Linked DNA regions of Homo sapiens: region 2 is linked to region 1. The links come from fine-mapping of genetic effects on gene expression. A gene starts in region 1. The other region holds a variant in brackets. All regions are shown on one strand. Distances are from middle to middle.

Region 1 (4,386 bases):
TAGAGTTTACATGTAAGATCATGTTAATTTTCATGAAGAGTTTGCAAAAGTAGTACTATGAAACCGATATTAGAGTTGAGAAAACTGAAGCTGAATCCTCATGAGAATCCAACCTATCTAACTTGAAGTTCATTTTGCTTTAATAGTTGGGCTTTGTAATGTCATTTACCCATGTGTGTTCCACAGAGGATAAAGCATGAGAAAAAAGGATTCTATGGTCATGTAAGTAAGGAGACCAAATTGCACTACATCTCCCCCTTGAAGACTCACAATTTTTTTTTTTTTTTTTTTTTCAGACGGAGTCTCGCTTTATCGCCCAGGCTGGAGTACAGTGACACAATCTCGTCTCACTGCAACCTCCGCCTCCTGGGGTCAAGCGATTCTTCTGCCTCAGCCTCTGGAGTAGCTGGGACTACAAATGTGTTTGTTTAAATAGGTACCCTGAAGTCTGAAATAAGGAGAGCCATTTTGTTTCATTTATCTAAGTATTTCATGAGCTCAGTTGGCTGTCTGAGAATTTTCCTTTTCCTGGTAAAACATTTAATATTCCAGGGAATACTTTGGGAAACTCTGCCTTAGAATATATTAGGAGAACCCTATTAATTAGAACTCATTTAGAATTAAAAAAAAACCCTATTGCATGCTCTTAAACTGATCTTTGTCAAAGTGAGAGTCATGACTTGCTGGGTTGTGAAATCAATTGAGTGCTCATCTGCAATTGGGGTTGCAGGGAAAGAATGGCAAGAAAAATATCAGGGTTGTTGCATGCAGTACAGGTAAGTACTGAATCATGAAATTTTTACTGGGTCGCTATGCAATATGCATTTCTCTCTGTGGTGATGGCCAAAAATGTCTGAAGCCGCTGCTTTCCTGAAAGTCACATGAATTGCTTGCTATGCCGGGAGTTAGGTGATAACTAATGTCTGAATGTTGTAAAATTAACACAAAAGGGCCTACTGTAATAACATGGTTAAATACATTATTTGTTATTACCTAAAATCAGATGATTTTAGATCTCAAATATCTCATAGAGGAGAAACCAAAATAGAGGTTTATTCTGACTTGTCAAGGTAAGACAGCTGTTAGCTGGGTCTAGAACCTAGATCTCCTAATGTGTATCTCTAGTGTTCTTTTACTTGTCAGTGTAAATTGACAGATTTTTCATTTATGGAATGCTTAGGGTTACTTCTTTTTAATGAATAGACAAACTCGGTGTAAAATGTAGCAAATCACTCCTGGATAGCTAGTTAATGACAAGTTACAAAAATGCTACAGGCTTTAATTGAAGGAAAAAAGTAATTTAGAGATACTTCAGTGCTGGGGTCTAATTCTAATTCCAATTAATAACTAATTGACCTAATATCCTGTTTTACTAGGTGGGGCCATTTAGTTACCTAGTTTCTCATTTGTATATGTAAATGTCCTCGATATATGATTTTGAGAAGACTTAGCAGATAAAACATCAGTGAACACCAAATCTTTCCATGCTTAAGTTAAAGGCACAACCATCACGTTACCTCTCCAGGAATAAACAATGAATCGAAGTTATAGGAAACCCTCCAAACTCACATTGCTTTTAAAAAAGAACAAGAACTATGACTTATCTTGCATCTCATAACAAGATAAACACTAGCTCGTTTTATTGTGGGCAGGCCTCTTCAAGACTGTCCAGTTGAAGTCTTGAAGTTCGTATCTAAATTTGTGTCTACTCACTCCTGGCTCGTGGACCGGTCAGTGGAGGTTGGAGCTATTTCCTTTTCCTCCTGTCTGCTTTCTGGAAAGCACCCACAGGTGTCTACGCCTGGGAGGTGGGCCTGGGCTAGGATTCCAGCAAACTCTCAGGTTGGTGTCATTTCCCCTCAGGAAGCGCCAGGCCACAGCGGGCAGAAATCATTTGATAACTTAATCTGGGTGTGAGGAAGAGTCGCTGAGGCCTGTGTACTCTAGTGATAAACGGAAGCATCCGGGTGAGTCAAGGAAAGGACGTGGTATCTTTTAAAACTAATATAAACGAATAAAGCCTAAACAAGAGCTTACAAAGAAGGACACCCCCTGCCAAAACGTGGGAGGTGACTGGTGCCTGGAAGGGAGATCACCGCGTGGTTAAGATCTGGAGGTTCCAGGGCTTCTCTTCGGGGAGAATTCTCTGGCTGGGAGAACAGTGGAGGTTGGAGGAGGTGAATTTCCTACAGCCCAGGACCAGCCCTCGGACCCTCCCCCTTCCTATAATTAACTCAACGCGCGTCCCGCCAGTCGGGACCGGTGGCGCCCCTGGACCCTCCCCTCCTCTCGCCCTAGGCGGAGAAGGAGAGGCTCCAGGGTGGGAGGTCGAGCCCGGGCCACACCAGCCCCCGAGCGGTCTCCAATCCTGACACGGTGCGGGGGGCGCGGGTTCGGGCCCCGCATGACGTGGGCGCCACGGCGGGAGGGGCAGTCCGGGGAGCTCCGGACGCCTTATTAGCGCCCCGCGGGTCGCCAGCAGCCAGCAGACTGCCGCGCTGCGAGCAACAGGAGCCGGCGAGCGGCCCACTCCTCCCACCTCCTCCGCCTGCCTTCTCCTCCTCCCCTTCGCTCCTCCCGCCCCCACCTCTGCGTGTGCGGCGGAGTCGCCCTCTCCCTGCCTCTTTCTCCCGCTCCCGCTCGCTCGTCTCTCTCGCTAATACTTCCCCCTGCTGTGCTCCGGGGAACCCAAGCATTCTCCGCGCTAACCTTAGGGACCAATGGTGCTCGAAAAGCCTCGAAAAAGCTGCTTTGGGCAGAGATAGTTGGAAAGCCCCTCGTCCCTTCCCCCTCTCCCAGGCTTAGCCTGTGCCCGCTTACAGCACCTTCTCGCTCCTGCACACTCTGTGTTGGGAGGACGGGGTGAGAAGGTGAAGTGGAAAAAACTGCAGAGCAGAGGGGGCCAGTCTCAGAGCTCAAATTTCATTTTCATTGAAGCAAAGCACAGAAGATCATTTTTTTCTATTTCGCATTTTTTCCCTTTTCCTTTTTTTCTTAAAGAAACTTATTTTGGGCGGGGGGGGTGGGTTTGCTCTGGGCATTTGCTTTGCCCAGTAGTTGGAAAGTGAACTCGACTCGTGATGGTTCTCCTGTCACTTTGGTTGATAGCAGCCGCTCTGGTAGAGGTTAGGACTTCAGCTGATGGACAAGTAAGTGGAAAATAATAACAATAAAAAAAAACTCAAACCCAACCTTTTCCCGAAAAGTTCCTCCCCTCTCTACCCTCCTCTCTTTCCTCCTTCTCCTCCCACCCTTCCCTGTTATCTTTTGCGTTCAGAAACGGTGTTTTGAGGGCTGGGCGCAGCGTGCGGGCTTTTGGGGGTAGAGGGTTGAGTTGCACGGGAGGTTACGACTCCCACTCCGGGAGCCCAGTCTTGTCACACCTAGGGCTTCACCAGTCTGCGACATTCGTAACAATTCCTAGTGACAAACCGCAGCCAGTTCCCATCCTCGCCGGGCCATCTGGGCTTCCCCTTTCTGGAGGGCGGTCTGGGCGCTTGAATGAAGTTCTGGACGCTGGGTCCGGGATCCCAGCGCTCTGGCTGCTGCCGCCAGAGTCGGGTTCCTGGAGCTTTCTCTCCTCCGAACTGACTCACGGTTTTTTCGGGCAGCCGGAGGCGGGGGTTTCAGGAAGTCCTTGGGCCGGACAGGGAGAGATCCAGTAGACACGTGTCCTGGGAGTACCACGGCCGGGCTAGGATTTGACAGTTGGGGAGGGGGGCTGGAGACGTTTCCTGCCCTCCGTTTTCCTGGGCAGAGGCTGCAGGCGCCGGCCGCCTTCTCCCCTCCCCCTCTGCACAACTCCTCCTCTTTTTAAAGCTAAGTTGAGTGCAGCTCTGTTTCTTTTCGGCCCTGCCCCCAACCCTTTGGAGGCTCAAGGTGAAGCCCGATGCTCTCAGAAGAGTCCTTGAGAAGGCTCCGCCAGGGGAGCTGTTTGTAGTAAATCATATCAGCACTGGGCCGATGGGACTTTGGGTACAGAATTTCTCTGTTAGTTTTTGTAGCTTCTCCGGTCGGCCTGGTCTGAACGACCATAGGGTAAAAAGTAGAGAATTGTCTAGTTGATTCCTGACCTTAAATCTGATTAATCAGGCCCCCTGTTAGGTGTATTTTGGCCTGTTAAATTCATACTTTCTTTTCTAATCCAGACCCAGTACGACATTTCAGAAGAGAGCATTGAGAGTCTGTATGTATTTTTGCTGGCTTCATAAGTGTTAAATTAAAATGAAAAGGGGCAAACAACTCCCTTCCCCAAATTGTTATGGAATTGGCTCATGGAACCTTCTACAAACCAAGGTGCAGGCTTTAGGCACCAATCCCAGTCTCTAGCATCTCCTGATTAGTTAGCTCTTGGAAACCATTAATGGTAGAAATAAAACTCACAAG
Region 2 (4,386 bases), 25 kb before region 1:
GAGAGTTCTGTAGATGTGTATTAGGTCCACTTGGTGCAGAGCTGAGTTCAATTTCTGGGTATCCTTGTTAACTTTCTGTCTCATTGATCTGTCTAATGTTGACAGTGGGGTGTTAAAGTCTCCCATTATTATTGTGTGGGAGCCTAGGTCTCTTTGTAGGTCACTCGGACTTGCTTTATGAATCTGGGTGCTCCTGTATTGGGTGCATATATATTTAGGATAGTTAGCTCTTCTTGTTGAATTGATCCCTTTACCATTATGTAATGGCCTTCTTTGTCTCTTTTGATCTTTGTTGGTTTAAAGCCTGTTTTATCACAGACTAGGATTGCAACCCCTTCCTTTTTTTGTTTTCCATTTGCTTGGTAGATCTTCCTCCATCCTTTTATTTTGAGCCTATGTGTGTCTCTGCACGTGAGATGGGTTTCCTGAATACAGCACACTGATGGGTCTTGACTCTTTATCTAATTTGCCAGTCTGTGTCTTTTAATTGGGGCATTTAGTCCATTTACATTTAAAGTTAATATTGTTATGTGTGAATTTGATCCTGTCATTATGATGTTAGCTGGTTATTTTGCTCGTTAGTTGATGCAGTTTCTTCCTAGTCTCGATAGTCGTTACATTTTGGCATGATTTTGCAGCGGCTGGTACCAGTTGTTCCTTTCCATGTTTAGTGCTTCCTTCAGGAGCTCTTTTAGGGCAGGCCTGGTGGTGACAAAATCTCTCAGCATTTGCTTGTCTGTAAAGTATTTTATTTCTCCTTCACTTATGAAGCTTAGTTTGGCTGGATATGAAATTCTGGGTTGAAAATTCCTTTCTTTAAGTATGTTGAATATTGGCCCCCACTCTCTTCTGGCTTGTAGAGTTTCTGCCGAGAGATCCACTGTTAGTCTGATGGGCTTCCCTTTGTGGGTAACCTGACCTTTCTCTCTGCCTGCCCTTGAAATTTTTTCCTTCATTTCAACTTTGGTGAATCTGACAATTATGTGTCTTGGAGTTGCTCTTCTCGAGGAGTATCTTTGTGGCGTTCTCTGTATTTCCTGAATCTGAATGTTGACCTGCCTTGCTAGATTGGGGAAGTTCTCCTGGATAATATCCTGCAGTGTTTTCCAACTTGGTTCCATTCTCCCCATCACTTTCAGATACACCAATCAGACGTAGATTTGGTCTTTTCACATAGTCCCATATTTCTTGGAGACTTTGTTTGTTTCTTTTTATTCTTTTTTTCTCTCAACTTCCCTTCTCGCTTCATTTCATTCATTCCATCTTCCATCACTGATACCCTTTCTTCCAGTTGATCACATCGGCTCCTGAGGCTTCTGCATTCTTCCCATAGATCTCGAGCCTTGGCTTTCAGCTCCATCAGCTCCTTTAAGCACTTCTCTGTATTGGTTATTCTAGTTATACATTCGTCTAAACTTTTTTCAAAGTTTTCAACTTCTTTGCCTTTGGTTTGAGTTTCCTCCTATAGCTCAGAGTAGTTTGATCATCTGAAGCCTTCTTCTCTCAACTCGTCAAAGTCATTCTCCATCCAGCTTTGTTCCGTTGCTGGTGAGGAGCTGCATTCCTTTGGAGGAGGAGAGGCGCTCTGCTTTTTAGAGTTTCCAGTTTTTCTGCTCTGTTTTTTCCCCATTTTTGTGGTTTTATCTAGTTTTGGTCTTTGATGATGGTGATGTACAGATGGGTTTTTGGTGTGGATGTCCTTTCTGTTTGTTAGTTTTCCTTCTAACAGACAGGACCCTCAGCTGCAGGTCTGTTGGAGTTTGCTAGAGGTCCACTTCAGACCCTGTTTGCCTGGGTATCAGCAGCGGTC[G/A]CTGCAGAACAGCGGATTTTCATGAACCGCGAATGCTGATGTCTGATTGTTCCTCTGGAAGTTTTGTCTCAGAGGAGTACCCGGCCTTGTGAGGTGTCAGTCTGCCCCTACTGGGGGGTGCCTCCCAGTTAGGCTGCTCAGGGATCAGGGGTCAGGGACCCGCTTGAGGAGGCAGTCTGCCCGTTCTCAGATCTCCAGCTGTGTGCTAGGAGAACCACTGCTCTCTTCAAAGATGTCAGACAGGGACATTTAAGTCTGCAGAAATTACTGCTGTCTTTTTGTTTGTCTGTGCCCTGCCCCCAGAGGTGGAGCCTACACAGGCAGGCAGGCCTCCTTGAGCTGTGGTGGGCTCCACCCAGTTGGAGCTTCCCAGCTGCTTTGTTTACCTAAGCAAGCCTGGGCAATGGCGGGCGCCCCTCCCCCAGCCTCGCTGCCGCCTTGCAGTTTGATCTCAGACTGCTGTGCTAGCAATCAGCGAGACACCGTGTGCGTAGGACCCTCCAAGCCATGTGTGGGATATAATCTCCTGGTGTGCCGTTTTTTAAGCCCATCAGATAAGCGCAGTATTCGGGTGGGAGTGACCTGATTTTCCAGGTGCTGTCTGTCACCCCTTTCTTTGACTAGGAAAGGGAACTCCCTGACCCCTTGCGCTTCCCGAGTGAGGCAATGCCTTGTCCTGCTTCAGCTCGTGCACGGTGCGCTGCACCCACTGTCCTGAGCCCACTGTCTGGCACTCCCTAGTGTGAATAAGCCGGTACCTCAGATGGAAATGCAGAAATCACCCGTCTTCTGCGTCACTCACGCTGGGAGCTGTAGACTGGAGCTGTTCCTATTCGGCCATCTTGGCTGCCCTCACTGTCGTTTTTCAATAGAATAAACTTTTCAGAAAGAAAGGAACTTACTAAACTAAAATCAAATTAATCAAAATAATTAAAAATTATTTTTAAAACAAATCAAAATAATTTTACTCAAATTAATCAAAATAAAACTAAAATCAAAATAATAATTTGATTTTTATGAAACTGCTTGCAAATATTTGTATAGGTAAAATTTCTAGTAATTACCATATCTGCACTGGGTTTGTTATTTTATTAGAAAGGAGTTTTCAGCATACTCTGACCAAGCTGTGTATAGATTACAAATTAGTATTTGTTTACTTTCCAACTCTTTTATTCTTATTTCAATACTCCTTATCATATTTTACATTTCAGATTTATGGATTTTTATATGAGTATCCTGTGCTAATTTAGGGTGATGCCAAAAAACAATAAGCATCTGTTTACAGAACATTTTAAATGTAAATTTTAAAGTGGCTTAATTAAAGATGCTCTGGAAATTACCTATTCATCAGTTAAATATTTATTGAACACTTTGTTAAATATTTGAATAATATAAAAGTAAATGGTTGCCAACGAATCCTTTATAGGTTTGTTGGAGATTATGGTTTGTTGGAGGAAAAACTAAAAGCAAGTCAATCTAGAAGGTAAAATTTTTTAATTGAGAAAAGTACAAAGTGCTCTGGGAACCTAAGGCCCACAGTGGTTAATTCTGCCTTGGAGAGCTAAGGCAAGACTTGGGGATACTTGAATAGGGTCTTGAAGAATGACTGGAAAAGATATTTTAGTCAAGAGATTGAAAGTGTATGGCAGGTACTGCAGCATAAAAAGGCACAAGGGAGAAGACAGATAGTTCTGACAGGCATTTGGAGGCAACAGGCATGTACTGGCAAGGTTTGATTTTGAAAGTACTCTATCATGTTTCCAAGTTTGGAAATTATTTTATAATAAATGGGAATACACATTAGAGGATTTAAGTAGAGAAATAAGGAGAAGGGTCATTGAGAGCCAACAGTATCTCATTTTACCAATAGGACCTCACTGAATCCTGATAAACTTTCAGGTAGTTTTGACTTTCTAGCTTACAAATAAGGAAACTGAGACTCGGCGAGGTTCCTTAACCTTCCCAGAATAACAGAACGAGTAAGTGGCAGAACAGGCATTTCAATCTAATTGTTTGACTTCAAAGTTCCAAAGGCCATTAGCTTTCCAAAGACCAGGCACTTTACCATTCAGCACACTGCCTCCAGAAGAAGTGGATATGTTATTGGTGGGAAAAGTTCTCCTCTGTCTTGGCTCTCAGGCAACCCAACTTTCTGACACACCCTTCAAAAGGATATTACCCCAGTGCATTTTGTGTGCAAGGGGATGGGAATTTACCTAACTTGAGAATGTTGTGCCCTTCCTTATCAACAATGGCCTCACGGGGCCTGCCGTCAGGCTTTTCATCCCCTTCCAGCAGGTCTGGCGAGCAGTTCACAGGCTACATGGACAAACTTAATTAAATTCAAGTGAGTGTTTTTACCAAGACCTGACAGGCGCAGTTGTGTGCAGCTGAATAATTGAGTTGTGCAGATTTTTTTTTCTTTGCCTTCTTGGTGGTAGGCTTTTTTTGGGGGGTTTTGTTTTGTTTTCTTTGGGTTTCTAAAGATGACCCTGACACTTTTCATAAAGCTGTTTTCTAGTAGGAACGCCCTCCATCAAAGAGACGCAATTCGGTTGCCAGGCTACCATGAGAAA

Alleles and levels. Positions count from the first base shown, and alleles are read on the strand shown. Sizes are in standard deviations (SD) of each study's normalised expression.
With allele G in place of A in region 2, the expression in sun-exposed skin of the gene that starts at base 2,622 in region 1 is lower (large effect, 0.87 SD a copy in GTEx).

Evidence for each region. PIP is the estimated chance that this variant, and not a neighbour inherited with it, causes the effect. A credible set is the group of variants that fine-mapping cannot tell apart.
Region 2: its variant is the best candidate, but not a certain one, in a credible set for the expression of ADAMTS3 in sun-exposed skin (GTEx, PIP 0.71).

The regions. Positions count from the first base shown.
Region 1 is chr4:72,567,457-72,571,842 of GRCh38, reverse strand. It overlaps ADAMTS3 (ADAM metallopeptidase with thrombospondin type 1 motif 3), which reads left to right and starts at 2,622. Exons shown (of 22, transcript NM_014243.3): 1 at 2,622-3,149. The coding sequence starts at 3,081.
Region 2 is chr4:72,591,992-72,596,377 of GRCh38, reverse strand. No RefSeq gene overlaps it. Among named protein-coding and RNA genes, the nearest start is that of ADAMTS3, 25 kb to the right of the region's middle. The variant G/A (reference allele first, on the strand shown) is at 1,811.